Linked DNA regions of Homo sapiens. The protein of the gene in region 5 purifies or fractionates together with the protein of the main gene of each other region. This does not show direct contact. Each region holds a gene or a part of one and is shown on either strand. Other genes may lie near its edges. The genes, in order: NIPSNAP1, PPP6C, EZHIP, KRT85, MYO10, FBXO45 and CSRP1.

Region 1 (4,600 bases), on a different chromosome or scaffold from region 5:
CGATCTCGGCTCACTGCAACCTCTGCCTCCAGGGTTCAAGAGATTCTCCTGCCTCAGCCTCCCGAGTAACTGGGATTACAGGTGCCCGCCACCATGCCTGGCTAATTTTTTTGTATTTTTAGTAGAGACGGGGTTTCACCCTGTTGGCCAGGCTGGTCTTGAACTCTTGACCTAAACTTCTGATCCACCTTTGCCTCCCAAAATGCTGGGATTACAGGCATGAGCCACCATGCCCGGCAGCAAATTTATAGTTCAACTTTGAAACAAAGATAACAGCCCTCTCCCAAAATAAACCCCTTTCTTGCCTGGGGACCAGACTGCTTTTGTAAGACTAACAAATTAGCCACGAGATTAGAAATTACGGTTTAGGAGTCATGCAGGTAGTGGCCACAGATTCTAAACCTCCCCAGTTGCTCCTAGGGATAACATCACTACTGTAAAACCTAAGATTGGTGCTCAAGATATTTTTCCGATCCTGCACTCAATGGATCCGCTGGCGATACACAGATTAAGAAACCGGATCATCCGGTTTTGTGGCCCCCACCCAGAGATCCACTCAGCACAAGAGGACGGCTTCCACTCCCTATGATTGCATCTCCGACCTGACCAATCAGCACTCTCCACTCTCTGGCCCCTACCCACCAAATTATCCTTAATAAAACCCAGTCTCCGAATTTTCAGGGAGACTGATTTGAGTAATAATAAAACTCCGGTCTCCCATTCAGCCGGCTCTGCATGAATTAAACTCTTATTGCAATTCCTCTGTCTTGATAAATCCGCTGTCTGGGAAACGGGCAAAATGAACCCATGGGGTGGTTACACTGACCCTCTGCTGCACATCCCGGACAGCCTTGTTAAGAACCCTTGGTAGGCTGGGCATGGTGGCTCACGCCTGTAATCCCAGCACTTTGGGAGCACGAGGCAGGCAGATCACGAGGTCAGGAGATCGAGACCATCCTGGCTAACACGGTGAAACCCCGTTTCTACTAAAAATACAAAAAATTAGCTGGGCGTGGTGGCAGACGCCTGTAGTTCCAGCTACTCGGGAGGCTGAGGCAGGAGAATGGCGTGAACCCAGGAGGCGGAGCTTGCAGTGGGCCGAGATCGCGCCACTGCGCTCCAGCCTGGGCGACAGAGCGAGACTCCGTCTCAAAAAAAAAAAAAAAAAAAAAAAGAACCCTTGGTATTATTGTTCCACGCTCCCATTTTACCGAGGTGGATCCTGAGGCCCAGAGTGGGCAAAGGGCTTGCCAAGGTCGCAGAGCGCGCAGAGGATTAGAACCCTGACTTCCGTCCAGCACCTGCGGAGTTGGAGACGCCCACAGGAAACGCCCACCTGACCGGGTGAGTGAGGGGGCGGGCGAGCCGGAGGGGTGGAGTTTATTCGCGCCCCGCCTCCGCCACCAGGGCTTGGGGGCGGGGCCTTCCTGCAACCTTTGCGGCTCCAACATGGCTCCGCGGCTGTGCAGCATCTCTGTGACGGCGCGGCGGCTGCTGGGGGGCCCGGGGCCTCGCGCTGGGGACGTTGCGTCTGCAGCTGCGGCGCGGTGAGAGCCCGGCCAGGCAGGGATAGACGCGCGCGGGGTGGGGTGCAGGCGCGGGGGCCAGGGACTGGGTCGTGGGGGAGGGGCTGAGACTCCTCGCTTGGAATCTGGGGGTTAGAGGCGGGGCAGGATCAAGGCCTAGGGAGGGGTCTGGGCAAAGAATGGGGGAGGTGAGAAAGGGATGGGTAGGGTCTTTGTCCTGGTTGGGACCGGGCTGTGATGGGGACCTGATGAAAGATGGTGAGAAGGGCAGGTACTGGGCCCTGGAGAGTGGGAGAGGGCAGAAGACAGGAGGAGTGGCCCATTCCCAGGCGTAGCTTGTGATTTAACACCCACTGGGGGCTTCTGGTAGTCAGCTCCTCCGTCGGGAAGTTCTGTGGGAAAGAGATGATGGCAGGGGAGCAGTGGGGGATCCCCAGGGGCCATGGCTGCACAGACCCTTTGTTCCTCCACCTCGAACTGTACAGGTGGGGAAACGGACCTGAGAGGGAATGGGAGTTGTCCAAGGTCACCCTCCCTGCTGTGCCGTGGCAGCACCAGGTCTGGGACCCAGGCCTGCCAATGCGCCATGCACTTTGCACCCAACTGGTGGCCTCCTGGGAGTGGGAGTCTGGCTGGGCCATGTGCTCTCAGCCTGGGCTTTTGTTTGGGCCCTGCTCTGGGCTGAGCTAGGGCTTGGCCTCCCTGACTGGCCCTGGGCAGCCCCTCACTCCTTGGTCCCCACAGCCCTGTACTTCCCCCATCTCTGCATATATGACCCTGCACAGTTATGACTTGGTGCTTGTCTGTCTCTCTCACTAGACCATGATCTCATTTTTCTCTGTTTCCCCAGCCTCCCACCCTCAGAGGGCTCAGGACTGTGTATGGTCAAGGAATATTTACCAAAGAAGTGAGGCCACCTGTTCCCCCTCCCCCAACCTGTGAAAAGGAAGCAACCATCCCTCCTGCCCTGCAGCCCAGGAATGAAGCTGCAAAGTTCTGATAGTGCCTGCCATGAGATGTTACAGCACAGAGCAGTGGGGCTTTTGGACAGCTGGGAAAGAGGAGTGGCATAAGCGCCCCACCTAGACTGCCCAATAATTAGGGATAAAGCTGACACCGTGGGAAAAGCCTAGAGTTTGCCTGGCACTAACAGATCTAACTCAGACTTTGTAGGTGGGGTGACCTCAGGACTCTTTAAGCCTCGGGTTCCTCATCTGTAAAATGGGAGTAATCAGGATGTATCTCATAGGGTTGTTGAGGATTAAAGATGCTGTGGTTGGTCGGGTATGGTGGCTCATGCCTGTAATCCCAGCACTTTGGGAGGCCGAGGCAGGCAGATCACTTGAGGTCAGCAGTTCAAGACCAGCTTGGCAACACGGCGAGATCCTGTCTCTATAAAAAGTACAAAAATGGCCGGGCGCGGTGGCTCACGCCTGTAATCCCAGCACTTTGGGAGGCCGAGGCGGTGGATCACGAGGTCAGGAGATCGAGACCATCCTGGCTAACACGGTGAAACCCCATCTCTACTAAAAATACAAAAAATTAGCTGGGCGCGGTGGCAGGCGCCTGTAGTCCCAGCTACTCAGGAGGCTGAGGCAGGAGAATGGCGTGAACCCAGGAGGCGGAGCTTGCAGTGAGCCGAGATCCTGCCACTGCACTCCAGCCTGGGCGACAAGAGTGAGACTCTGTCTCAAAAAAAAAAAAAAAAAAAAAAAAGTACAAAAATTTCACCATGTTGGTGAAAACGTGTCTCTACTAAAAATACAATTAGCTGGGTGTGATGGCTCACCCCTGTAATCCCAGCTACTAGGAAGCTGAGGCAGGAGAATCAATTGAACCCGGGAGACAGAGGTTGCAGTGAGCCGAGATCACGCTACTGCACTCCAACCCGGGTGACAGAGCGAGACTCCGTCTACAAAAAAAAAAGATTCCGTGGTTGTGAAGTGTCTAGCACTTGACGAACATGCAGTAAGTGTTGCTCCTTAACCCCTAGCCTATGTTTCAAGCAATTTCTGCATGTGACCCACATAATGTTGAGGCTCAAAGGGCTCTGGGAAGATCATCTTTTATGAGCCCTTTGTTTTCCAGATAAAAATATCAAGATTGGGGAAGGGACAGAATGGATTGGTGGTAAAACCATTTGTGTGGCAAACACCCAGAGGCTGTAAAAGGAGCATGGGTCTCAGAGTCAGCCTGCTGCCCCTCACTCAGTGACCCTGGATGAGTTGCTGAACCTCCGTCAGCCTCAGTTTCCTTTTCTGTAAAGTGGGGATGTTGGTGTTTTCGGCAGGATTGCTATGAAGCCACTTGAATTAATGTTTATCAAGTCCCTCAAGGACTGTCTTGCAGTTACTTATACCTTAATTCCACATTGGATACCTGAGAACACTCTGTCCTGCTGCCCCTCAGGCTGCCCCATATCTCTCCAGAGTCACTAGTAGGGCCAGCAGCAGCCCTTCTGGCCTGTGAGGTTTGGGGGCAATGAGGCTGCTGGGGTGGGGATGGAGTGTGGGCTTTGAAATCAGATGGACCTGGGCCAGGCACCATTGCTCACGCCTGTAATCCCAACACTTCGGTAGGCCAAGGTGGGAGGATTGCTTGAACCCAGGAGTTTGAGACCAGCCTGGGCAACATGGCGAGATCCTGTCTCTATAAAAAATACAAAAATTTGGCCAGGCACAGTGGGTCATGCCTGTAATCCCAGCACTTTAGGAGGCTGAGGCGGGTGGATCACCTGAGGCCAGGAGTTCAAGACCAGCTTGGCCAACATGGTGAAACCCCATCTCTACTAAAAACACAAAAATTAGCCAGGCCAGGCCTGGTGACTCCCACCTGTAATCCTAGCACTTTGGGAGGCCCAGGCAGGCGGATCATGAGGTCAGGTATTCAAGACCAGCCTGGCCAACATGGTGAAACCCCGTCTTTATTAAAAATACAAAAATTAGCTGGGCATGGTGTGTGCGCCTGTAATCCCAGCTACTCTGGAGGCTGAGGCAGGAGAATCGCTTAAACCAGGGAGGTGGAGGTTGCAGTGAGCTGAGATCGCACCAGTGCACTCCAGCCTGGGTGATAGA
Region 2 (3,524 bases), on a different chromosome or scaffold from region 5:
TAAAAGTTAAGGTCAAGTGTTACAGCAAGAGAAGAATGATTCCTATTGAAAAGCACATAGATTTTAGTTAATAATACTCATGATAGATTGTAAACTGGATTGATCACATTCTACTCAACTGGTATCAAATTAACACATCAGCATTACAAGTATTAAATGTTTTTCTATTACTATAGAGGATATAAACCAAAACATTAATATGGCAGTTATGTTCTTTAGGCACAGTTTAGTGATTTTTTTCAAAAATAAATACTATTGAATTTCAATTGAAGTTTTAAACTCAATAACCAAAGGGTCAAGAACTCTGATTAGGAAAAAAGAAAAGATAACTTTACGCTAACAATGTAAGCTGTTTAAAATTTCTAACACTTAACCTATCTGAGTTTTATTTAAGATTACTTTATTAAAAAATACAAGGAATCTGAAAAAAGATCAATACAATTATCTTAAAGTACAAAGTCATAAGCTGTAGCAGTTTTTAACTAAAATTTAAAAACACAACAAGGAGGGCAGCCCTTTAGACCAATTTATTTTATATCCATTTAAAATATCATCCAACAAAGGACAATGAAGTTTACATCTGGGACAGGTATACATAACTTGAGGCATTTGGAGTCCATCGTGCCCACTGAATAACAACTTTGCTGCTGAAATTTCTTAAAACTTACCAAACTAAAACAAAAGGCTGAATGATACAAAAGGAGGAGTATTTAGGTGTAATCTGTCAATTGGCTTTTAAAAAAAGGAAACACATCCTGTTTCCCAGACCAGTAAATAAGCAAGAGCTACATGCAGCAGTGTGAGTATTAAGACATTTCTCAAGTCTTCTCAAATGAGTCCAGGGTGGGGATGGGATGGGGGAAAATTGATAGAAAAACTTTGCTATAGACACCACAACAAACAATAAATTTAGATAATTTAAAATTTAAAAAAAAAAAGGCAAGAGGCAGCATTTCAGCAGCAAAGTGCTCAATAAAAAGTATATTGTAGAGGGTAATACAAGAAAATTGGGGTAAGAAGAGGGCAGAAAAATGGGTCAGCAGGATGGGCGAAGGCCTCAAAGGAAATATGGCGTTGTCGTTCTGGGAGGAATAACACGTTCTGAATCTGGAACTGCCCGGAATAACTTTGGTTCTCTTGTATTTACATCTTTGAAGACCATGATCGAAGCAATATTTCCACAACGATAGCAGTAATTAGGAGCAGACCATACTGTCACCAGCTTCTCATCAAACATAAATTTATAGCCTTCGTGCACTAGTTGATGTGCTCTGCAGATGAGTTTTAAGTTGTTGATATGAACAAACTGCAATTTAGAAAGGCACTGTAAGTACTTAGCACTTAAAAAACAATCGGCCTACATAATCATTTAAATAAAATACCAAATCCTATTACTACTAAAGGCATCAAGATTATAGAACGCACTCTATAATTATCTCCAACAATTTAATAAGTTTAGGCAAACAGCAATTTTGGCCTGAGTCAAGTGCACAACTATGGAAACTGTACAGCTACATAAACAGTTAGAAATTTCTGGAAGAAAAAGCATTCAATAGGTACTATGAAACAAAATTTTGTGTTTTCTGATTTAATAATAAAGATATTGCTATCAGTATCTACCATTTACTGAAGGTTTAGTATATGTAGATGTTGCAATAATTCTGAAAGAGATTATTCTTTTGCAACTTAAGGAAACAAAAGCTCAGACTAGATAAATAACTTATCTAAATTAAGATACACTGATGCAGGATCAGAATCTAGTTTTTTGACTTCATTATGATGCTGGAGCACTTCCCAATATAAGGGGTGTGTGTGTGTGTGTGTGTGTGTTTTAATTGAAAACAGTTGAAAGTTCAAAGTGTGTGTGTGTGTTTTAACTGAAAACAGTTGAAAGTTCAAAGTACTGCCTATCTTGAAGATGGCGGAGTAGCATCGCAAAGAGATTAGTATTGAGTCTCTGGGCCGACTTTGGTTGCAGTCTCTGCAGCAGCAGTGATCACTTAGTGAAGAGTGCTTAGGGTAGTTGGCCAGGATCCTGAATATCAAAATCTTCAGCGGCAGCTCCCACCAGGGCTTATCTCAGAAAACTGCCGATCGCCTGGGCCTGGAGCTCGGCAAGGCAGTGATTGAGAAATTCAGCAACTAGGAGACCTGTGTGGAAATTGGCAAAAGTGTACGTGGAAAGGATGTCTACATCATTCAGAGTGGTTGTGGCAAAATCAATGACAATTTAATGGTGCCTTTGATCATGACTAATACCTGCAAGACTGCTTCAGCGAGCCAGCTTACTGCAGTCATCCCATGCTTCCCTTATGCCCAGCAGGATAATAAAGAGTCAGGTGACAATCTCAGCCAAGCTTGTTGCAAACATGCTATCTGTGGCAGGCGCAGATCATATTATCACCATGGACCTACATGCTTCTCAAATTCAGGGCTTTTTTGATAACCCAGTGGACTATCTGTATGCAGAGCCAGGTGTCCTGAAGTGGATAAGGGAGAATATCTCTGAGCAGAAGAACTGCACTATTGTTTCATCTGATGCTGGTGGAGCTAAGAGAGTGACCTCCATTGCAGACAGGCTGAATGTGGACTTTGCCTTGATTCACAAAGAAGGCCAATGAAGTCGACCGCATGGTGCTTGTGGGAGATGTGAAGGATCTGGTGGCCATCCTTGCGGATGACATGGTTGACACTTGTGGCACAATCTGCCATGCAGCTGACAAACTTCTCTCAGCTGGAGTCACCAAAGTTTATGCTATCTTGACTCACAGAATCTTCTCTGGTCCAGCTATTTCTCACATCAACAACGCATGCTTTAAAGCAGTAGTAGTCACCAATAACATACCCCAGGAGGACAAGATGAAGCACCATTCCAAAATACAGGTGATCAACATCTCTATGAGCCTTGCAGAAGCCATCAGGAAAATTCACAATGAAGAATCCGTTTCTTACCTATTCAGTCATGTCCCTTTATAATACAGTAACTTCTGAGGCTTTTTAAGAATAAAATCCACCCCACCCCTTGTTTTCCCTTGGTATTTGATGACGAATTCAGCAGAAGACCCAGCTTGCTCCAGTGTAGCTTTCTATATCCCACATCAGGTATATCTGAGCTTATCCGAAATGAAGAAAGAAGGATTGAGATTAACTGCTGGGACTTCCTATCTGCATTGTCTCATTCTGGCTTCCTTGATGATTCTGTGAGCCTTGCAGCTTTAACTATAGCTCAGCTGTTACAAGATTTCAGACTTTTGAGGATGTTGTGTGGGGGTGTTTGACTGTGACTGGAGAAGCTCAGACTACTCTGCATGTGAATGCTTCAGGGTTTTCTTTGTTGAGAACAACCAGCAGCAAAGCCAACCCATGTGTGAGCAGTTCTCCCCAAGGTCTATGCTAAATTATGGCAAGAGCCCTGGGCAACCCCAAACCTAGTCCCGGTGGCTGAGCACCCTGTAAGGCAGGAGTAGGCAGTTGGGCTTGAGCAGCCATGGGGTAGGGGGTGGGGGGTGGTTGAGGGGGGAGGC
Region 3 (4,386 bases), on a different chromosome or scaffold from region 5:
TATATTATTTAACACTCCAAATACCATTCCATTCTATTTTTGTGTTGCATTTCAGCCCAATTGTTCACCAATTCCATTAAATATCCGATTTTATTGTGCTCAAAATGTTATAACAGTGACATTCAGGAGACTAGTTTGCCAATATTTTTAATCAAAGAATTACAAATGTGGCTGGGCGCAGTGGCTCACGCCTGTAATCCCAGCACTTTGGGAGGCCGAGGCGGGCAGATCGCCTGAGGTCAGGAGTTTGAGACCAGCCTGGCCGACATGGTGAAACCCTGCCTCTACTAAAAATACAAAAAATTAGCCGGCCATGGGTGGCACGCGCCTGTAGTCCCAGCTATTCGGGAGGCTGAGGCAGGAGAATTGCTTGAACCCGGGAGGCAGAAGTTGCAGTGGGCCGAGATCATGCCACTGCACTCGAGCCTGGGTGACAGAGCCAGACCCCACCTCAAAAATAAATAAATAAATTAATTAAGTAATTAAAATAATTACAAATGTTCATAGACTTGTACCAAGAATTTTCTCTTCTGGGAATTTATCCACAATGACACATTTAAGGATATGAACAATTTTTAATGAGAAGGATGTGTCTCACAATGATGTAAAATGTTGGAAACAGCATAAACGGTGGCCAATATGGGAATGTTTGAAAATGTAAACTTCTTTTATAAATGGAGTATTTTGTAATTTAAAGTGGCCTCGTAGAAATTTGTTTACTGACATAGAAAATGTGCTTTCTGGAACCCAAAGCAGGTTACAATGCAGTATCTATGGAGAAACTATTCCATTTCATAAAATAAAAAATTTAAAAAACTATGAAATATGTATGAATAGGGCCTTTCTACCAAAGTCTAAGTAAAAATTTCCAGCACTTTCCCATGGGTGCCTGAGGACTTAGGTGTAGTTTTCTTACATTTGCTTTTCTGTTTTGAGTACTGAACATGACACCTTTTGTAATAAATAATGACTAAAAATGAGTGGCCAAATATTAAACTTCAAGTCTATACATTACAGCATATTTATATTAATTAGGAGCTAGAGACCACACTAAATAAATTAATATATGTTCATCAGCGGATTACTACGCAGCCCATAAAATATTTAAGGACGGTGTCACCCTTAACCTTAGGCAATCCCTAACTGTGCCTTGGGGGAAAAGGCACAGTTCTAAATCCCCCTCTGGTGTGTGGGACCTGAGGTGTGTGGGACCTGGGGGAAGCAGCAGTGCTGAACATCCGGAGGCAAGACGGTGTGGGCCCCTTCCCTTTTCTCGCCTTCAGGCCTCTGTATAACCCTAAAACCCACCAGACCCCACATGGGGTCATCTAGATGCCTGGAGGAGTTCCAGGGTGGTCCCTTCGGGCGTCATGCCTGGTTTCATTGTCCTGACCGGGTGCGAGGAGGGACACCTGGCCAGGAGATATAACCTGCCGGCCAGTGTGGCATTTCTTTCAAATGACCACTTAAGCCTCAGCCACGATTTGGGGTGACTCAAATCGTTCATGTGGAACACACACACACACACACATATACACACACACGTGTCTTAGGGACGGACACACACAAACACGTGTCTTAGGGGCCCCGTGTGAGGAGAGGAGATTCACACTACTGACCCAGCAACCAGGGTCGACCCCAGAGGGCTGGAGCACACACTCCGGGTTGACGATAGGCGCCTGGCTCTGGGTTGCACGGCTCCGGATTGGACGGCTCCCGGGAAGAGAGAGGAGTCATCTGACGTCCAGCTCGCCAATCAGAGTCGAGGACTGGCTGGGCTCCACCCACCTTCTTGCTCTACCAGTTCGCGCTCTCCTCCGGCAGAAGTAGCAGCTGCGCTCTTGCTCTCTGGGGGAGAACCTGGCGTTATGGCCACTCAGTCAGACATGGAGAAGGAGCAGAAGCACCAGCAGGACGAGGGGCAGGGAGGGCTGAACAACGAAACCGCCCTTGCCTCCGGGGATGCCTGCGGGACCGGGAATCAAGATCCTGCTGCTTCCGTCACCACAGTCTCCAGCCAAGCATCTCCCTCGGGCGGCGCCGCCCTAAGCAGCAGCACAGCCGGTTCTTCCGCTGCAGCCGCCACCTCCGCCGCCATTTTCATCACCGATGAGGCCTCGGGGCTGCCAATCATAGCTGCTGTGCTGACGGAGAGGCATTCTGACCGCCAGGACTGCCGCAGTCCTCACGAAGTTTTTGGGTGTGTGGTGCCCGAGGGGGGCAGCCAGGCCGCTGTGGGGCCCCAGAAGGCCACTGGCCACGCCGACGAGCACCTGGCCCAGACCAAGAGCCCCGGGAACAGCCGTCGTAGGAAGCAGCCCTGCCGCAACCAGGCTGCCCCGGCTCAGAAGCCTCCAGGGCGGCGTCTGTTTCCTGAGCCTTTGCCGCCATCTTCTCCAGGGTTCCGGCCCAGCAGCTATCCCTGTTCCGGGGCTTCTACGTCGAGTCAGGCAACCCAGCCAGGCCCTGCACTCCTAAGCCACGCATCTGAGGCAAGGCCTGCTACCCGAAGCCGCATCACCCTGGTAGCTTCTGCTCTCCGCAGACGTGCATCTGGTCCAGGCCCTGTCATCCGAGGCTGCACCGCCCAGCCAGGCCCTGCTTTTCCACACCGCGCCACTCATCTAGACCCTGCTCGTCTAAGCCCTGAATCTGCGCCAGGCCCTGCCCGCCGAGGCCGTGCATCTGTGCCAGGCCCTGCCCGCCGAGGCTGCGATTCTGCGCCAGGCCCTGCCCGCCGAGGCCGCGATTCTGCGCCAGTCTCTGCCCCCCGAGGCCGCGATTCTGCGCCAGGCTCTGCCCGCCGAGGCCGCGATTCTGCGCCAGGCCCTGCCCTTCGCGTCCGCACAGCAAGGTCAGACGCCGGTCATCGCAGCACCAGCACGACGCCAGGCACTGGCCTCCGGAGCCGTTCCACCCAGCAAAGATCAGCCCTTCTCAGCCGCCGCTCTCTGTCTGGGTCAGCTGATGAGAATCCTTCCTGTGGGACTGGCTCAGAAAGGCTTGCCTTTCAGAGCAGATCAGGCTCTCCTGATCCTGAGGTCCCAAGCCGTGCTTCCCCGCCTGTTTGGCATGCAGTCCGTATGCGTGCCTCCTCACCCTCACCCCCTGGGAGGTTCTTCCTTCCCATCCCTCAGCAGTGGGATGAGAGCTCCTCCTCCTCCTATGCTTCCAACTCCTCCTCCCCGAGTAGGTCTCCTGGCCTAAGCCCCTCATCCCCTTCCCCTGAGTTTTTGGGCCTGAGATCTATCTCCACTCCTAGCCCTGAAAGCCTTAGGTATGCTTTGATGCCTGAGTTTTATGCTCTGAGCCCTGTCCCTCCAGAAGAGCAGGCAGAAATAGAGAGCACAGCTCACCCCGCAACACCGCCTGAGCCGTGACCCTCTATAAGCATCCTCTAAGACCCACAGAAGGAATCAACATTTACCCACTTTGTGAATGGGCTGCCTGCCCTGTAGTTAGCTGCGAGGTCTCCCAAAGTTCCAGCCGTTAACCAACATCCTGAGTAGTTTAGAAGCCTCTCCTCCCCATGACTCCACCACCTAGCACTTAACCTGCTGTTGGCCTTTGATTCTGGGCCACCTTCTTCCTCAAGAGTTTGCCTTTGCCCTTGAGCTGAGATTTCTGTTTTCCAAGTTGCTTTTCTGTTATGAAATGTTTTAATTAGTAAAATAAATTGTTTTGTTTAAACAAAATGTAGAGGTGTGTTTTTTTATTGCGGTTCGAAAAATCGTTAATCCTATATCATATTTGGAGGGTTAAAGAAAGTTGTTAACATACTAGCTGACTCTTTGGACGAGAGAAGAAATAAAATACTGTCCTAGCAATAATTTATTCCCACTGGCTGAAATGGAGTTCTGTGCAGGAAGTTCCCACTTAGGTCTATATACCCTCTTAGCAGAGGTGATTTGCAACTTGGGCAAGAAAAGGGGCCAGGGTCTAACCCAGGTGGCTGGAGAAAAGGAGGGGTGATGGAGACATCCAGGGTCAGGAAAGGAGCAGGGAATGATGAAGTTTGGGATGAGAGGTAGGGAGACGATAACCCAGATGGGAGTAGGGAAGCTGGGAGGAAGATCCAGAGTCAGGAAATGGGGAACAGCAGGAGTCAGAAGCTTGAGAGGGGAATATCTTAGATTCTAAAGGATAAAAAAATGTTTATGTGTGGGGAACGGGCTCCTGAGGTCTTTGGGGGTGGGGAGAATGTGGGAGGGTGATTTGGGGCTAATAATTGATGGGAAAATGGTCAGACATTCAGTGGAAATACGTGTTAATCGATAATGTTACTGTAACAAAAATAATTGTAACTGAGTTTGAGCAGATATGTGAGGGTGTGTGTGTGTGTGTAGACATTTGGAGAGAACTACATGGGCATACACCATGCTGTGA
Region 4 (3,147 bases), on a different chromosome or scaffold from region 5:
ACAACATCTGGAGGGGATTAATCCCTTTTCAATCCCCGGAAGAACTTGCCCAGGAGTTGGGATGGTATTCAAGGTCCAGTTTCTCAGCTCCAGACCTTCTCTCTCCCACACCCAGGTATGAAGAGGAGGTGGCCCTGAGAGCCACAGCAGAGAATGAGTTTGTCGTTCTAAAGAAGGTGAGGGGCTGGTCATGGGGCAAGGAGGAGGGGGCCCATCAGTGCAAACTCCAGCGAGGGGCAGGGTCACCATGCTGACCAAAGGCACCTTTCTTTGGTCTCCTCTCACATGCATGTCCCCTCCTCTTTGTCCCACGGCCAGGACGTGGACTGTGCCTACCTGCGGAAATCAGACCTGGAGGCCAATGTGGAGGCCCTGGTGGAGGAGTCTAGCTTCCTGAGGCGCCTCTATGAAGAGGTAAGGGGGCAACTGCCACCCAGCCAGGGCAGGTGGAGGGGTGTTTTGGAGACAGGGGAGCAGTGAGGCAAGGGTGCATGTGTGTGCCTATGTTTGCCAATGTGCAATGTAAGTGTGAAAAGAGCTTGCACATACGTGCTGGGGCCCACAATACAGAGGCCATGTCCACGTTCATGTGTGAGAGGAGCATGGGGTGTACATGTTCTTGGGCTGCTCTGTGTCTGTGACCTCTCTGCATGTTGGTGTGCTGCCTGTGTGAGTGCCAGTCTACAGATGGGCAAGAGAGTGTGCATGTGTGGTGGGGGTCAGGATGGCTTCGCACATAGGGCATGGTCCTCATTAATGGACTGACTAATCACTCATCCTAGCCTCCAAACCCCAGCTCCCCTGCTGGGTGACTTTGGACCAGATCTTTTTCACCCTCTGGGCCTCAGTTTTCCCACTTTTAAGGCAGACACTGTTCCCAGATGGCCTCTACAGCCCCTTTCAGCTTTGTTGTTTTTAAGGAGCCTGTGCATGAGTGAAGGTGGTAGGAGCAGGAGTCATGTAACCTTCATGACCAGTGCCCGGTCTGGGAAGTGGACATTGTCCCCTGGGGTGGATCACGTGGCCCAGATCAGGCACTAGAAGCAAATGCACTGGCTGTTGGCCCCACAGGAGATCCGCGTTCTCCAAGCCCACATCTCAGACACCTCGGTCATAGTCAAGATGGACAACAGCCGAGACCTGAACATGGACTGCATCATCGCTGAGATCAAGGCTCAGTATGACGATGTTGCCAGCCGCAGCCGGGCCGAGGCTGAGTCCTGGTACCGTAGCAAGGTGAGTGGCACAGGACACCTGCCTGCTAAGCATGGCAGTGGGAGGGAAGTTAGGCATCTATTAGAAAAGATTTCTCTTGCCTGGGGATTCTGACCCATGAGGACAGTATGAGAAAAGCCAGTAGTTCTCAGGTTGAAGTGGCAGGGCAGGACTGCCATGTGTGGTTGCACAGGCTGAGCACCGTACAACCTGTATAGTCATCTGTGGTGTCCTGAATGGATGGGGGGCCCCACCCTGAGCCTCATGAGCATCTCTACTTCCTCCAGTGTGAGGAGATGAAGGCCACGGTGATCAGGCATGGGGAGACCCTGCGCCGCACCAAGGAGGAGATCAACGAGCTGAACCGCATGATCCAGAGGCTGACGGCCGAGATTGAGAATGCCAAGTGCCAGGTGGGGTCTGTGGAGGATTCAAATACGCAGCACAGGCAGGCTGCAGCACCTGGCCCTAATCAGGCTTCACAGTGTGCCCATGAGGAAGCAGGGACCCAGAGGGAAGGGAGGGGCTCTATCATATTTCACAGCAATCAGACCATGTCACTGACTTCCAAAGGAGGATCCAGCCCCTTCCTTGGCCACCCTGTGACCGCCATCAAGGAGAGATGATGAAAAGCCCACCCATCTCCTCCCTCATATTCACAGCCCCATTAACTACCTGGCCACGGGCCAACCTTCTCTCCAGGACCCTCCTCTCCCTGCCCTGGCTCCATCAGCTTGGGTGAGCCAAGCTGTGGCTTCTCTTTCTCATCCTGGCCCTTGTATCTCCACCTGATAGCGTGCCAAGCTGGAGGCTGCTGTGGCTGAGGCAGAGCAGCAGGGTGAGGCGGCCCTCAGCGATGCCCGCTGCAAGCTGGCTGAGCTGGAGGGCGCCCTGCAGAAGGCCAAGCAGGACATGGCCTGCCTGCTCAAGGAGTACCAGGAGGTGATGAACTCCAAGCTGGGCCTGGACATCGAGATCGCCACCTACAGGCGCCTGCTGGAGGGCGAGGAACACAGGTGGGGCTAAGAGGACTTTGTGGGGTTTCAGAGGTGGAGGCTGTGGTCCTCCAGGAGTGAATTTCCTTGAGCTGAGTGTGAGCTACAACTCTGGCCATGGCTAATACAATAGCTTCAATAATAATAATAATAATAACTGAATGCTTCTGTGCTAGACCTGTGCTAAGTGTTTATTTTATAATCCTCACAATCCAATAAGATAGATATGGTTTTTCCCATCTTTTTATCTTTAGATAAAGAAGCAGGCTCAGAATTCAGTGCCTTTATCATGGCTACGCAGTTAATAAGCAGAAGAGCTGGGACCTGCACCCAAGTCTCATGCCTCCCAAATCCGTCCTTGTTGAATAGCTTCCTACTGAAGCTGCTGCCACACAGGCCTGTGTGTTATGATGATGATGCACTTCTATATGCATTTAGCTCTTCATCAACCACAAAGCCCCTTCACACCCTGGTGTATCTGATTCAACTCTCCTTCCTGTGAGCTTGATTGGCACCATCCAGGCTGGCCACCATCACTCAAACTAGGGGCACTGTTCATAATCTTACCCACTGCTGCTGAAAATCAGAAAGCCTTGTCTTCATGGTTAAAACCATCAAAGAAAGAAAGCATTTAATGCAGATTTGAGGGAGCCCTTCTTGCCTTTCAGGGGTAGACTCTGTACACAGGATGACCCTCTCTGTCCCCAAGCAACCATCAGTCTCAAGGAATCCAACTCAGTGTCTGGAACTAACAGAGTTTTCTTTCTCCATAGGCTGTGTGAAGGTGTGGGCTCTGTGAATGTCTGTGAGTATCTGCCTGAAATTCTCCTGGAAAAATGGCTTTTTTGATAGAAAAGCTGAACTCATTGGCCTAACCCATGGAGCCTCGAGTGTTCCCCCAACTGTTTCACCCTCCCCTGGCTCCTCAGTGGGGGCC
Region 5 (4,159 bases):
CATTAAAGACCCAGTTCTGTGAATATTTTTATTCATACAGAATAAATCCATGGCCAGAGGAAGGGGCTCTGTCTTTCATGCTTTCTGTCTTTGGCAAAGCTGTTTTAAAAACGTAGATCTCTCTGAAAAGTGGTTCCAGGGTTATTGTTGTTGATTTTCACTTTTCCTTTACTATTTTTAGAGAAAGAGAGAGAGAGCGAAGAGAAGCCGAGCTCCGCGCCCAGCAGGTAATGAGTGCAGTGACAACTTAGCCTCTTGTGTTTCTACTTCCTTCCCACTTCTAATGCTTGGACTCTAGGATTCAAAACTGAATTAAAGTAGAAAGATAACAGGAAGAACAATTTAAGAGGATGTGTTTATGATCCAATTTCTGACCTATTACAATTGGGTAAAGCGTAGTGAATGGCTGAGGTTTTAGTGTGCATCACAAGAGTATAATTTCTCTAAATCGGTATAACCAGCGTGTTAGTTTGCTAGGCCCACCACAGCCAAATACCACAGACTGGTGGATTGAACAGTGGAAACTGATTTTCTCCCAGCTCTGGAGGCCGGAACTGCAAGATCAAGTTATCCTTAAGTTTGATGTCTTCTGAGGCCCCTCCCCTTGGCTTGCAGGTGGCCGTCTGTCCAGTGTGTCCTCACGCAGCCTTTTTTCTCTGTGTGACCTAGTCTCCTGTTCCCAAAAGGACACCAGTCATCTTGGATTGGGGCCCACCCTAGTGAACTCATTTTAACTTAGTCTCCCCTTTAAAAGCTGTATCTCCAAATGCAGTCACATTCTGCAGTATTGGGGTTAGGACTTCAACCTATAGACTTTATGGGGACACAGTCCAACTCATAATGACCATATTTCATCCTGGTTGCAAAGCGGGAGCTATGCTTGGACTTTTGTACTGAAGCCTTCTGAAATCTCCCTTCTGCTTCTGTCCAGGAAGAAGAAACGAGGAAGCAGCAAGAACTCGAAGCCTTGCAGAAGAGCCAGAAGGAAGCTGAACTGACCCGTGAACTGGAGAAACAGAAGGAAAATAAGCAGGTGGAAGAGATCCTCCGTCTGGAGAAAGAAATCGAGGACCTGCAGCGCATGAAGGAGCAGCAGGAGCTGTCGCTGACCGAGGCTTCCCTGCAGAAGCTGCAGGAGCGGCGGGACCAGGAGCTCCGCAGGCTGGAGGAGGAAGCGTGCAGGGCGGCCCAGGAGTTCCTCGAGTCCCTCAATTTCGACGAGATCGACGAGTGTGTCCGGAATATCGAGCGGTCCCTGTCGGTGGGAAGCGAATTTTCCAGCGAGCTGGCTGAGAGCGCATGCGAGGAGAAGCCCAACTTCAACTTCAGCCAGCCCTACCCAGAGGAGGAGGTCGATGAGGGCTTCGAAGCCGACGACGACGCCTTCAAGGACTCCCCCAACCCCAGCGAGCACGGCCACTCAGACCAGCGAACAAGTGGCATCCGGACCAGCGATGACTCTTCAGAGGAGGACCCATACATGAACGACACGGTGGTGCCCACCAGCCCCAGTGCGGACAGCACGGTGCTGCTCGCCCCATCAGTGCAGGACTCCGGGAGCCTACACAACTCCTCCAGCGGCGAGTCCACCTACTGCATGCCCCAGAACGCTGGGGACTTGCCCTCCCCAGACGGCGACTACGACTACGACCAGGATGACTATGAGGACGGTGCCATCACTTCCGGCAGCAGCGTGACCTTCTCCAACTCCTACGGCAGCCAGTGGTCCCCCGACTACCGCTGCTCTGTGGGGACCTACAACAGCTCGGGTGCCTACCGGTTCAGCTCTGAGGGGGCGCAGTCCTCGGTAAGTACCTGCCTGGCGTGTCCCAGTGAAATGGGTGGCCGGTCACACCCACCCCTGTTGCATCCTCAAGTTGAATGAAGATACCCGTAGGATATCTGTGCAAAGATTGCAGAGTCGTGGTCTTAGAGATCATCTTAAACCTTTTGCTTATTCCATAAGCCAATTGCATTCATAAGTAGAACTTTGATGTGCCTGTTTCAGTTTTAGCACAAAGCCTAGAGCTGAGCTGTGCCCAAGACTTCAGAAAACTGGCTATTTATTTATTTATTGTTGTTGTTGTTGTTTTTGAGGTGGAGTCTTCTCTGTCATCCAGGCTGGAGTGCATTGGCAGGATTTTGCCTCACTGCAGTCCCCACCTCTCGGGTCCAAGCTATCCTGCTGCCTCAGCTTCCTGAATAGCTGGGATTACAGATGCCCGCCAGCACACCGGTCTAATTTTTGTATTTTTAGTAGAGATGGGGTTTTACCATGTTGGCCAGGCTGGTCTTGAACTCCTGACCTCAGGTGATCCACCTGCCTCGGACCCCCAAAGTGCTGGGATTACAGGCGTGAGCCACCATGCCCGGCTTAAAACTGGCTTTTTAAATGGAACTTTTGTTTATTTTATTTTATTTCTTCCTTCCCTTTTTTTACAATTTGAATGGAACTTTTAGCTTTGCCGTGCTGCGTTAGGAAATGAAGACACATCCTGAACTGGAACAAGACTTGCCAGGGGTGAACTGGCAAACTTTCCTTGTACTAACTTCACAATCCAAACCACACGATGTTATTTCTTATAGTGGCTGTAAAGGAAGAAGCTGCAGGGCTTAAATGTACTCTTTTCCAGTTTCTGGATTTATCTGTAGTTTACTTTTATTTTGTCGCTTTGGTCGTGCATTGAATGTTCTCTTGACTTTCAAAGATTTGAAAATATATTTAATATAGTAATTCAGAGGGGGTGAACTCTTGCATGGTTTGATTAAAATTATAGCCTTAAAAAGCATTGTTAGTTTTAGGGCAGATAGCCTTTGGATTCAAGTATATCTTGTCTTTCATGTATCAATTCAACTGACCATTTGACCTTAAAAGTTGGTATTTTTAATTCCGAATTATTTGTGTGCTACCGTAAATCAGGCGTATTGCTTGTCAGTTGTTTTTTTTCTTTTTCCTTTTCCCTTTTTTTTTTTTTTTTTTTTTGAGACTGAGGCTTGCTCTGTTGCCCAGGCTGGAGTGCAGTGGCACGATCTCTGCTCAGTGCAGTCACTGCCTCCTGGGTTCGAGTGATTCTGCTGCCTCAGCCTCTTGAGTAGCTGTATTTTTGTATTTTTTCAATGATGATACATGCTGGGTATCTTCGTGGCTTGCTTTGTGGCCTTTTCCCTCACCGTTGGCTTCTCTCTCTCGGTCCAGTTTGAAGATAGTGAAGAGGACTTTGATTCCAGGTTTGATACAGATGATGAGCTTTCATACCGGCGTGACTCTGTGTACAGCTGTGTCACTCTGCCGTATTTCCACAGCTTTCTGTACATGAAAGGTATGACTGCAGCCGCCATGGAGTCTGGGTTAGGGGGAGAGCGAGGCGTTATTTTATCCGGGCTGATGGATGGCGGTGGGAAATAACGGAGGTGTTATTGTATCTGGGCTGATGGATGGGGACTGGGAAAGTCGTTCTACCTACCCTTACCTCAGTGTTGGGCCACTTAGATGAATGAAGGGACACCTTGTCATGTTGGTGTGACATGGGTGCTGTGGTCCTACCAGCATGAACACAGTCGTGACTCCCCTGGTTTGGTGCAGAGTGGCAGGACGAAGCATTTGCAACCACTGCCTCCAGTATCAGTCCTTCTCCCCTGTCTCTCCCTGTCTCGTTTTCCTTTCTTAGCTCTTTCTTCATCCTTCTATTTTCTCTCCCTCTCTCTCCCACTTTCTCTTTCACTGTCTCCCTCTCTGTCTCAGTCTCATTGCTCTCTCTCATATATACAGACATACAAACCAATGTGTGTGTTGCTGCTGCTGCTGGAATTGGTCGAGACCCATTCTCATGATAAACTGCATGTTCTCGGCCGGGCGTGGTGGCTCACGCCTGTAATCCCAGCACTTTGGGAGGCCGAGGCGGGTGGATCATGAGGTCAGGAGATCGAGACCATCCTGGCTAACACAGTGAAACGCCGTCTCTACTAAAAATACAAAAAATTAGCCGGGAGCGGTGGCGGGCTCCTGTAGTGCCAGCTACCTGAGAGGCTGAGGCAGGAGAATGGCGTGAACCCAGGAGGCGGAGCTTGCAGTGAGCCGAGATCGCGCCACTGCACCCCAGCCTGGGCGACAGAGCCAGACGCTGTCTCAAAAAAAAAAAAAAAAAACTGCATGTTCTCT
Region 6 (4,559 bases), on a different chromosome or scaffold from region 5:
TTAATGGTCCTTTTATTTTGTAACCTTATAAATGCTGTAGATATTATCAAAAAAATTTTAATTTCATATTGTTTACATCATGCAACTAATCTAAGCCTCAAACTCGTTATTGGGGCTATAAAGAAAACGTTTACTTACCCAGCTGAAACAGGTTAAGAATATTCTTAATCTCATTATAGATAATTGCCCCCATGGGACTTGAAATACAACACCTTGTGCTGAAAACTTCAGGTTGGCAATATTTGAAGGTTTCGTTGTAGAAGAGTTTAACATTAACTCCTATTTTGACTTACAAATCTTGTTTCTCATCACTAAAATGCTTTTGAATTAATAATCCAACCCACATGAGCTGAGAGTTTTTCTTTTGTTAGAAAAGAAACAGACATCTTTCTGTATGAAAGTATAAATTGTATGGTTTTAGATACATAAGAATTGACAAAAGCGAGCGAAATCTTTGTACTTCTGAGTTCTTGCTGTATGTATGTTTTGTTTTAAATCTGATTAGGGACACCCAGCAGCTGGCCGGGATTCTTGGATTGCTCCTTGGGAGTTAAGATTGTCAATACTCCTGTGAAGCAAGGGATTTCAGCCATAGAACAAAGATTTATTGTTGCCACCTGAAAAGTTTACAAGTATTTATTGTGTATTTGATACATTGCTTGAAAAGATGAAATCTGTTAAAGATTCTTTTCGATGTCCAGGTTAAGAAGAAACCTCCTTGTATTGAGTGAAATTATATGTTAAATGTATTAGAGAATGTAGGTGGTATAGAAATTGATTTTTCTTGGTGTAGAACAACTCAGTTCGGCAAAGTTTAAAATTTGATTAAACAAGAGAAGTGGTTCAGGTTGAAGATGGACTTGTTAGGAAGTGATCAAGTCCTTTAAGTACTTGTTTCTTTTTCAGGTTGTGATGTGGCCATTCCGAATTTTGTTGAGAGTTTGGTTTATAATTGTCTCTTTTGTCTTGTTAGTAAACATTCATTTGCAACAGTTTTGAAGGTGCTGAGTGGAAAACCGAAACACATGGTTATTGCGTATTGGACCTAGAATGAAATAATTGCCTCAATATTTAACAACAAGCCATTCTTATCTCAAAGATTTAAATTCCCGAATGTCCCATTCGCAAATCATATGCAATTGAAGTGAGCAGCATGAGCATCTGGGTCATGAGGGCCTTCATTTACGTAAATTTGTCACTAAAACCCAGTAGTAGCTCTACAAAATCTTAAACTGCTGCAGTGCTCAAGGAGATGGAATATCTTTGTCATTGGTGCTGAGGAGAGCATTTCGGTAGAAGACAGTTGCGCCTGAAGATTGAGTGTAAATCATTCAAACCAGTGGTTCTCAGTGTTGGCTGTATACACTTTGTAGTCACTTTGGAATGTTGGAAGACACATCGATGCTTGGGTTCCGTATGCCAAGATTCTGATGTTGGTCTGGAATATGAGCTGGTCATAAGGATTTTTAAAAACTTTCTGGTCATTTCAATATGCTGCCAAGGTTGAGAACCACTGTTGTAAAATTCACCTTGAGTTTTCTCATCTGCAAAATAGAAAAAAAAAAATCCTTGCTCCCTCCCTTCACTACCTCACAAGGATATTGAGGGTAAAGGAGAAAATAATGGGAAAGTGCTTGTGCCGTGGATGAAAAGTGCTATTAAAAGTCAAAGGAGTGTTCTGTTTCAATTCATAGTATGATCAGGGAAAGTGTAACTGAGTATACTTTGTTGACTTGGGAAACCTGGAGCACTTTCTTTGGTTGGTTAACGAAGCATGCAGATGTGGAAGCAGACGTTACTATTATCCCTACTATGGTCTTCTGTCATACTGAGACAGGCTGTTTTAATTACCTGGTTTTACATAGGAAAGAAGAAATATTAAGGCTTAAAGTTTGTAATGATCAATGGCTCATAATTCATTAAATCTTTTCATACAAGGAATTTGTGGTTAATGTCATTTCATAGTTGCCATTATTTTCTCATTATTTGACTTAAATGTTAAGCCATTTATTTCATCTCCCTCATTCACATAAAGTGTAGATATGGATTCAATAAGACACCAAAAGAAAGTAAGATTTACCCAGTTAATATTTAAAATCATTGTTCAGTGATTAGGCATTTTCTGCCTTTTAGAATTATTTGACTGGAGAAAGAGTTTCAAAAATAGCAGAGCCCTAAACCATAAAGAAACTACTACTGTATAATGAACTTTTGTTTGTTTTTGGAGACAGGGTTTCACTCTACTGCCTAGGCAGGTCTTGAACTCCTGGGCTCAAGCAGTCTTCCTGCCTCAGCCTCCCAAGTAGCTGGGATTACAGGTGTATGCCACTATACCCAGCTTTAACTTTTAAATCCCCAAACTATGTAGATTGTCATATTAATATTAATTTTTTTTTGTTATTTTGAAGAAGTGAGTAATTTGAAGAGATAGAAACTTAGGGAGTGGTGTGTGTGTTTCTTTTTTGGAGACAGAGTCACGCAGGCTGGAGTGCACGATCTTGACTCACTGCAACCTTTGCCACCCAGGTTCAAGCAATTCTCGTGCCTCAGCCTCCCGAGTAGCATGTGCCACCACACCTGGCTAATTTTTTTCTTTTTTCTTTTAGACGGAGTCTTGCTCTGTTGCCCAGGCTGGAGTGCGGTGGTGTGATCTCAGTTCACTGCAACCTTTGCCTCCCGGGTTCAAGTGATTCTCCTGCCTCAGTCTCCCGAGTAGCTGGGATTACAGGCACCTGCCACCATGCCTGGCTAATTTTTGTATTTTTAATAGAGACGGGGTTTCACCATGTTGGCCAGGCTGGTCTCGAACTCCTGACCTTGTGATCCACCCACCTCAGCCTCCCAAAGTGCTGGGATTACAGGCATGAGCCACTGTTCCCGGGCCTAATCTTTGTATTTTTAGTAGAGGGGGTTTATGCCATGTTGGCCAGGCTGGTCTTGAACTCCTGGCCAACACCACCCACCTCGCCTCCCAAAGTGCTGGGGTTACAGGCGCGAGCCACCGTGCCAGGCCAGAAATTTAAGGAGTTTTAAAGGTTAGCATTGAAAAGATTACTTTCCAGAAATTGAGACCACCACAGTTCCACAATTGGGACTGTGGTAGATAATCAGGACCACTTGGAAGCCTTTATTAGGAACAGCCCACACCCAGCCCAAATGCTGTCCTCAAAAACATTCCTCAGTTTCTCTAGCTGAATGTAATCTCTCCTTGAAATTTCCCTAGTTTTATATATCTATAGTTGACTCATGCTGTATTTATTTATACCTTGTTTAAAATTATTTATTGATTATTTATTGGTGTCATATCGCCCCTAAACTGGGACAGGATCTCTAACGGACTCATCTTTGTGCCACAACATGTAAGCCCAATAGGCAGGTGCTCACATATTTGCTGAAGGAACAGAGAAAGAACTGCGGAGAAAGACAAAAGCTCCTCTGAAGTTTTAGACTATAGAAGCAAAAATTATAGTAGCAAAAGATGAATGAGAAATTCTGTTCTAGTCCCAGTGAAGCAGGAAGGAAAGGGTTGCAAACTTGAGGCTGGTAAGGAAGAAATAATTACTGTGAATGCATTTAGCCACTCCCCTCTACTCAAAAATACTGGTAAACTCTGATTTTTATATTTGTTTAGAATTTAAATTAGAATTCTGTATCTTTATTTTTTGGAATTCTGTTGTTTTGCCTTAGTTTCTTAATAAAAAGTTAAACATTAACCACCTGTGATTGCTTACATTTAAAGACATTTTTTACACATTGGTTAGAAAGAAAAATTGGGGTGCCTTAATAGCCAGAGGTGGTGATGGAATTTACCTATAAATTCCATGGCTTTAATAATAGAATCCACATTCCCCATGTTTAGAATGGAAAGTGGACAGAGAACAGTAATTCACTAGGGTCTTATTTCCCAATTGCCTCTACCGCCCCCCACCCCACCCTCCTGCTGACATTTGTTTGATAATGCAGTTGTTTGCCAAGAATTATGAGAGACAGGCATGCTATTCCTGAACTGGCTGAATACACGGCTCCTGTGATCCAAAAGCTTAAAAGAGAATCAGTTGATGATGTTGCTAAACAAGTTGGCTGATATGTTAAAGTTCAAAGCATTTTAATTTTTTTTTTTTTTTTTTTTTTTTTTTTTTTTTTTTTTTTTTTTTTGAGACAAAGTCTTGCTCTGTCACCCAGGCTGGAGAGCAGTTGATGTGCTCTCGGCTCATTGCAACCCCTGCCTCAGGTGATCCGTGTGCCTCGGCCTCCCAAAGTGCTGGGATTACAGGCATGAGCCACCGTGCCCAGCCCAAAGCATTTAAATTTTATAAAAGAAAAATAGGTGTAAATGTTCTGTATTTGCCGCTTTGTTTAGTGGAAAGAGACGCCAGAGACAGCTTTACCAGTCTGTTGTCCTGATTTCTTTTTTGGATCCTCCCTCGAACTGTTTGCTTCTTATTTAATGTGTTCACTAAAATACTGTTGAGAGCAACATGTTCTCTAGTCTTCAGAATAATAGTTTGCTGAAAGAAGTAGCCCTTTAAGATTTAAGATTGTTATTCAGCTTTTGTATG
Region 7 (4,159 bases), on a different chromosome or scaffold from region 5:
TCTGTCAAGGCCACTGTTGGAGCTGGTCATCTGGGAAATAGGTACACGAGGCCTTGTTGTTATTAAAGCATCTGCTTTTGTTTTGAAAACTTAGTGTGGGCACATTTTCGAGAAGGGCTGAAGCAAAGCAGCACAGCCCCAACGCATCAGGCAGGTATGCCTAAGATGAAGGATGCCGCAACCCCTCACATGAACCTATTTCCAAAAAAAAATGTGGCCTTCCACGGACTTGCTGTGGGGGCCCTAACAGCACAGCAGGCTGAGCCAGGCCCCTCCACCACACCCCTCCTAGGTAGAAGTGAGCTTTCTAGATTTGACGTGAAAGTTCCTCTGGTTGAGTTTCCCTCTTAGGCTGGGGCTTTCCGAGCTGGGAGAAGTTCTGAGCACAGTTTTGGGGCCTAGCTGAGCCCCTCCAAGTCCAAAGTCCATGCAATTCCCAGGCCCAGATTTGGGGGTGGAGACCAGACAGGACAAGCCAGTGGTGTTTGGCTGGTCGGGTCACTTCAGACAGTGTGGTTCAGTTGGCATTGATACTGAGAAGTAATTGGTCCTTAGAAAAAGCAGGAACGAATCCACTTTGATTCATTTCCACCAGGCTGCCTGCTTTTTTTTTGAGACAGAGTTTCACATTTGTTGCCTAGGCTGGAGTACAATGGTGTGATCTCAGCTCACTGCAACCTCTGCCTCCCGGGTTCAAGCGATTCTCCTGCCTCAGCCTCCCAAGTAGCTGGGATTACAGGCACCCACCACCATGCCTGGCTCATTTTTTGTATTTTTAGTTGAGTCAGAATTTCACCATGTTAGCCAGGCTGGTCTCAAACTCCTGACCTCAGGTGATCCGCCTGCCTCGGCCTCCCAAAGCCCCTGCTAATTTGATTGCTCCCATTGAGTTCCCTCCCAGCTCCACAGACACAGGATTGGACACCAGAGTTCTGGTCTAAACAGCTTTATTGACCAGATGAGAAATCAGCTTGGGTACAGCCCATGCCTGCAGCCCTTTCAGTGGGTGGCTCCAGATAGTGTTGTCCTTTCAGTTGCTGGGAGCGGTGAGGCCCAGCCCTTTCCCCTTCCTCCCACCACTATTCCTAACCTGGGGCCTGGCAGGGGTGGAGTGATGTGATCTAAGGGTCCCTGGAGAAGGGTGGAGTGGAAGAGGCAGGGTCTTGGGTTAAAGGGAAGATTCTGAGGTCTCAGGGCAAAGGGAAAGGTGTTTGGATGAAGACTGAGGCAGTGCCTACCTCCCTCCACATCTGAGGATCAAGCAGGTGTGGCAAGAACAGAGCCCTGGCCTGGGCTCTGCTGGCCGCAGCCTCAGGAGCCAGGGTTAAGGCCAGAGATAAATGAAGATTTGAGCCATTGATAAATGCCAATATATGTTTCAGGTATTTCATTAGGATCCTCCCATCAAGCAGGGAACTAGATGTTTGAGAAGATCAAACAACATCCTGACTTTGGGGTCCTTAAGACCTGGGTTATTCTCCTCCCAGTCCTAGTGGGAGGCTATCCATTCCACAAAGACTCAAAGGCAAGAGGCCTGGAGAAGCAGGGGCTCCTAGGACCCTGCCTGCATGCCTCTCTGCCTCCAATAGTGACTCCCTAAGCTGGGACTCCTCAGGCTTACTCTGAGGGACACCAGGAAGCTCAACCTCTTTCCCACAGAGGAGAATCTCTGAGATCCAAAAAACCCAGCCTTCCCCCCTCCTCATCTTGGTCTTGCTTCCCTCTCCCTCCAGCCTGTTGCTGCTGCTCCTCTGGGTGCCAAGATGTGTCCTCAGGTGTCTTGGTCAGCTGATGATGGACACGCAGCACAGGAGGCTAAGAACAGAGCTCTGTGGGGCGAGGTGTGGGGAGAGGGGCCTGCTCTCACCTAGACCCAAAACACTGAGGTCTCCTACTGGTGATGGTGTCAGATCCCAGGCCTGGGGAGCCCTTTAGTGGGGTGGGACCTCAGGCAGACCCCCAAACCAAAGGGAGCCAGATGCCCAAGTTCAAGTCATTAGTGATATGTGGCAGGGCTGACAGAGAAATAATCCTGGAGGTCTCCAAAGCTGCTGGGAATGGAATGGCGATGAAAAGCGCAGGAGTGGGCAGGGTGTGGTGGGTGATGGTGGCCTCACTCAGAGTGGACCAAGGCCCCAGCTCCTTGCCCAAAACCAAAGCCCTTGGGCCCGAAGTTTTTAGCATAACATCCTGCAGAGAGAGGAGAGAGATAAGGGCATGTTCTTCCTCCACCCCCAGCCACACCACCCACCCTCCTGCTGAAGATCCCCCACTCCTAGTGCCCAGCCAGACTGCTAGGGAAGGAAGGTCCACTGGTACCCCCTCACCTCCACAGCACCCCAATCTCAATAGTAAAATAGCGAAGAGGCTCTTGGTTGTACCCTGTACCCATTGCCCCTGCCACCAAAATTATAGAAGCATCATCTGCTGTAAGAACATTGGACTGGGAGTTAGGAAGCCAGGGTCTAGCCCTATGCCTGCCTCAATTTGCCAGATGATGCTGGCCAAGTTGCTTTCCCCCTCTGGTCTTGTTTCCTCATCTGTACAATGAAGGAATCATACTAGATGTTCAGATCTTGGATCCCAAGGCCAGGAATTAGTTTACATTCAGCAAAGGCAAAACTACTTAGCCCCCCTACCCCCTTGGGCCTCCTGACCCTCAATTAGAAGTGAAAACACCCACCTTTGCAGTAAATCTCGCCATCCTTGTCTGCCAGGGTGGTTGACTCAAGGCCTTTGCCACACTTGGCACATCGAAAGCAGGCCTTATGCCAGGACTAGGCAGGGAAGGAAATAGTTAATGGCTGCCACCAGTGATGAGGGTACCCTCCACCCCAGGCCCACTCCCTTTGACATAACCATGGTATAAGGGCTCAAGCCACTTCTGAAGTCTACTCAGCTGGTGCTGCTGGGAGGACATGGCCTATGGTGCAAGGCAGTAGAGGGAGAAGGCCAGGGACCACACGCCACCTCGCACCATCTTCCATGCTATGTTGCAATGGCCTGATGATTAGGGTCACCAGCTATACCACAAAAGGCAGGTGAGGGGGTGGGTTTAACACCAAAGTAGCTGTTACCCCACTGGCTGGGCCAGATGAGCCTTCTCCAGACCCATCTTGCCAGTAGATCAGTGGTGTGAGCCAGGGCTTTGCACTCCTCCTGGTACTGTCACTTAGTACTTGAACAGCCCTCACCAGAAAGACCTCTCTGCCCTGTGTTGCCTTGGGGCCTCTCATAGAGACCCAAAGGGTCTTCTGTGGCCCCTGGAGAAACTACTCCTTAGGACTTTCCCTGCTGAGTTTAATGCATTTCATAGACTTATTCTCCTTCCAAAGTGATACTAGACAACATTGACTCTGGCTTCCTCTGTGCCAGGCCCTGTGCCAGGCACTTTACACTGGTGAAGTCAGTTAGTGTTCACAGCTACCCAGTGAGGGACATACTGCCACCCTCCCCTCCAATAGCTGATAGCCTTTGGGCAAAGGAGGCACCTAATTCTAGAACTTCAGAGGCTGGGCTGGTCCAGGAGAATCCAATTACAAATACCTTCTCTGTGGCCAGGCATCATATGTTTAAATATCTAGTCCTCACATGCATTCTGTAACACAGGGCAAACAGCTGTCCCAGAAAAAAAGTGAGGCCCGAGTTTGTACACAGTGATGGGACGTTGCACAGACAGACTTCTCCGCAGCCAGTTCCCATCAACAGCTGGGCAGGCTAAGAGGCTGATGTGTAGACAGCTCTGCTTAACCCAGGAAAAGCAAGAGGCAGGCAGCAGTCAGATAAGACAAAACAAGGCCTTTTAAGGGCAAAGACACTCCCAGTGCCCAGGCTGGTGGATGAGAAAGGAAATTCATCCCCTCAGATTTCCTGGTTGCCTAACCTTGCACATTGGCTTCTCCTCCAGAGAGCTGAAATGGGGGGACCTGGGTCTAGGTCAGTGCTGGTGCAACCTCAATAGTCACCCAGCCTTTGCTGCCTCCTCTGTAAAGCAGGGGCTGCTACCCCAAGCTCTCTAGGCTGGAGAAAAACTGAATCACACCTAGACCAACACCTCTCCTCATATTTCCTAGCCACCTCCCTGCCAAAATAAGCTGAATCCCTTTGCTCATTCATAAGCACCCAAAAGTACTCCCAGCTCAACATTTCTTGAGCGAGG

What was found.
Region 1: the proteins of MYO10 (region 5) and NIPSNAP1 purify together in Homo sapiens (affinity purification with mass spectrometry, with the first as the bait; one large-scale study listed by BioGRID). This does not show direct contact.
Region 2: the proteins of MYO10 (region 5) and PPP6C purify together in Homo sapiens (affinity purification with mass spectrometry, with the first as the bait; one large-scale study listed by BioGRID). This does not show direct contact.
Region 3: the proteins of MYO10 (region 5) and EZHIP purify together in Homo sapiens (affinity purification with mass spectrometry, with the first as the bait; one large-scale study listed by BioGRID). This does not show direct contact.
Region 4: the proteins of MYO10 (region 5) and KRT85 purify together in Homo sapiens (affinity purification with mass spectrometry, with the first as the bait; one large-scale study listed by BioGRID). This does not show direct contact.
Region 6: the proteins of MYO10 (region 5) and FBXO45 purify together in Homo sapiens (affinity purification with mass spectrometry, with the first as the bait; one large-scale study listed by BioGRID). This does not show direct contact.
Region 7: the proteins of MYO10 (region 5) and CSRP1 purify together in Homo sapiens (affinity purification with mass spectrometry, with the first as the bait; one large-scale study listed by BioGRID). This does not show direct contact.

The regions. Positions count from the first base shown.
Region 1 is NC_000022.11:29,577,932-29,582,531, reverse strand, and holds the start of NIPSNAP1 (protein NipSnap homolog 1), read left to right. Parts: upstream 1-1,418; 5' UTR 1,419-1,449; coding exon 1,450-1,547; intron 1,548-4,600.
Region 2 is NC_000009.12:125,148,616-125,152,139, forward strand, and holds part of PPP6C (serine/threonine-protein phosphatase 6 catalytic subunit), read right to left. Parts: intron 1,307-3,524; coding exon 1,058-1,306; 3' UTR 1-1,057.
Region 3 is NC_000023.11:51,405,149-51,409,534, forward strand, and holds EZHIP (EZH inhibitory protein), read left to right. Parts: upstream 1-1,799; 5' UTR 1,800-1,868; coding exon 1,869-3,380; 3' UTR 3,381-3,695; downstream 3,696-4,386. UniProt on the Homo sapiens protein: Inhibits PRC2/EED-EZH1 and PRC2/EED-EZH2 complex function by inhibiting EZH1/EZH2 methyltransferase activity, thereby causing down-regulation of histone H3 trimethylation on 'Lys-27' (H3K27me3).
Region 4 is NC_000012.12:52,361,335-52,364,481, reverse strand, and holds part of KRT85 (keratin, type II cuticular Hb5), read left to right. Parts: exon of another isoform or gene 1-61; coding exon of another isoform or gene 62-115; coding exon 116-176; intron 177-318; coding exon 319-414; intron 415-1,071; coding exon 1,072-1,236; intron 1,237-1,502; coding exon 1,503-1,628; intron 1,629-2,010; coding exon 2,011-2,231; intron 2,232-2,983; coding exon 2,984-3,015; intron 3,016-3,147.
Region 5 is NC_000005.10:16,698,611-16,702,769, reverse strand, and holds part of MYO10 (unconventional myosin-X), read left to right. Parts: intron 1-181; coding exon 182-227; intron 228-931; coding exon 932-1,807; intron 1,808-3,196; coding exon 3,197-3,320; intron 3,321-4,159. UniProt on the Homo sapiens protein: Myosins are actin-based motor molecules with ATPase activity. Unconventional myosins serve in intracellular movements. MYO10 binds to actin filaments and actin bundles and functions as a plus end-directed motor.
Region 6 is NC_000003.12:196,585,347-196,589,905, forward strand, and holds the end of FBXO45 (F-box/SPRY domain-containing protein 1), read left to right. Parts: 3' UTR 1-3,713; downstream 3,714-4,559. UniProt on the Homo sapiens protein: Component of E3 ubiquitin ligase complex consisting of FBXO45, MYCBP2 and SKP1. Functions in substrate recognition but also plays an important role in assembly of the complex.
Region 7 is NC_000001.11:201,482,600-201,486,758, forward strand, and holds the end of CSRP1 (cysteine and glycine-rich protein 1), read right to left. Parts: intron 2,778-4,159; coding exon 2,684-2,777; intron 2,191-2,683; coding exon 2,114-2,190; 3' UTR 931-2,113; downstream 1-930. UniProt on the Homo sapiens protein: Could play a role in neuronal development.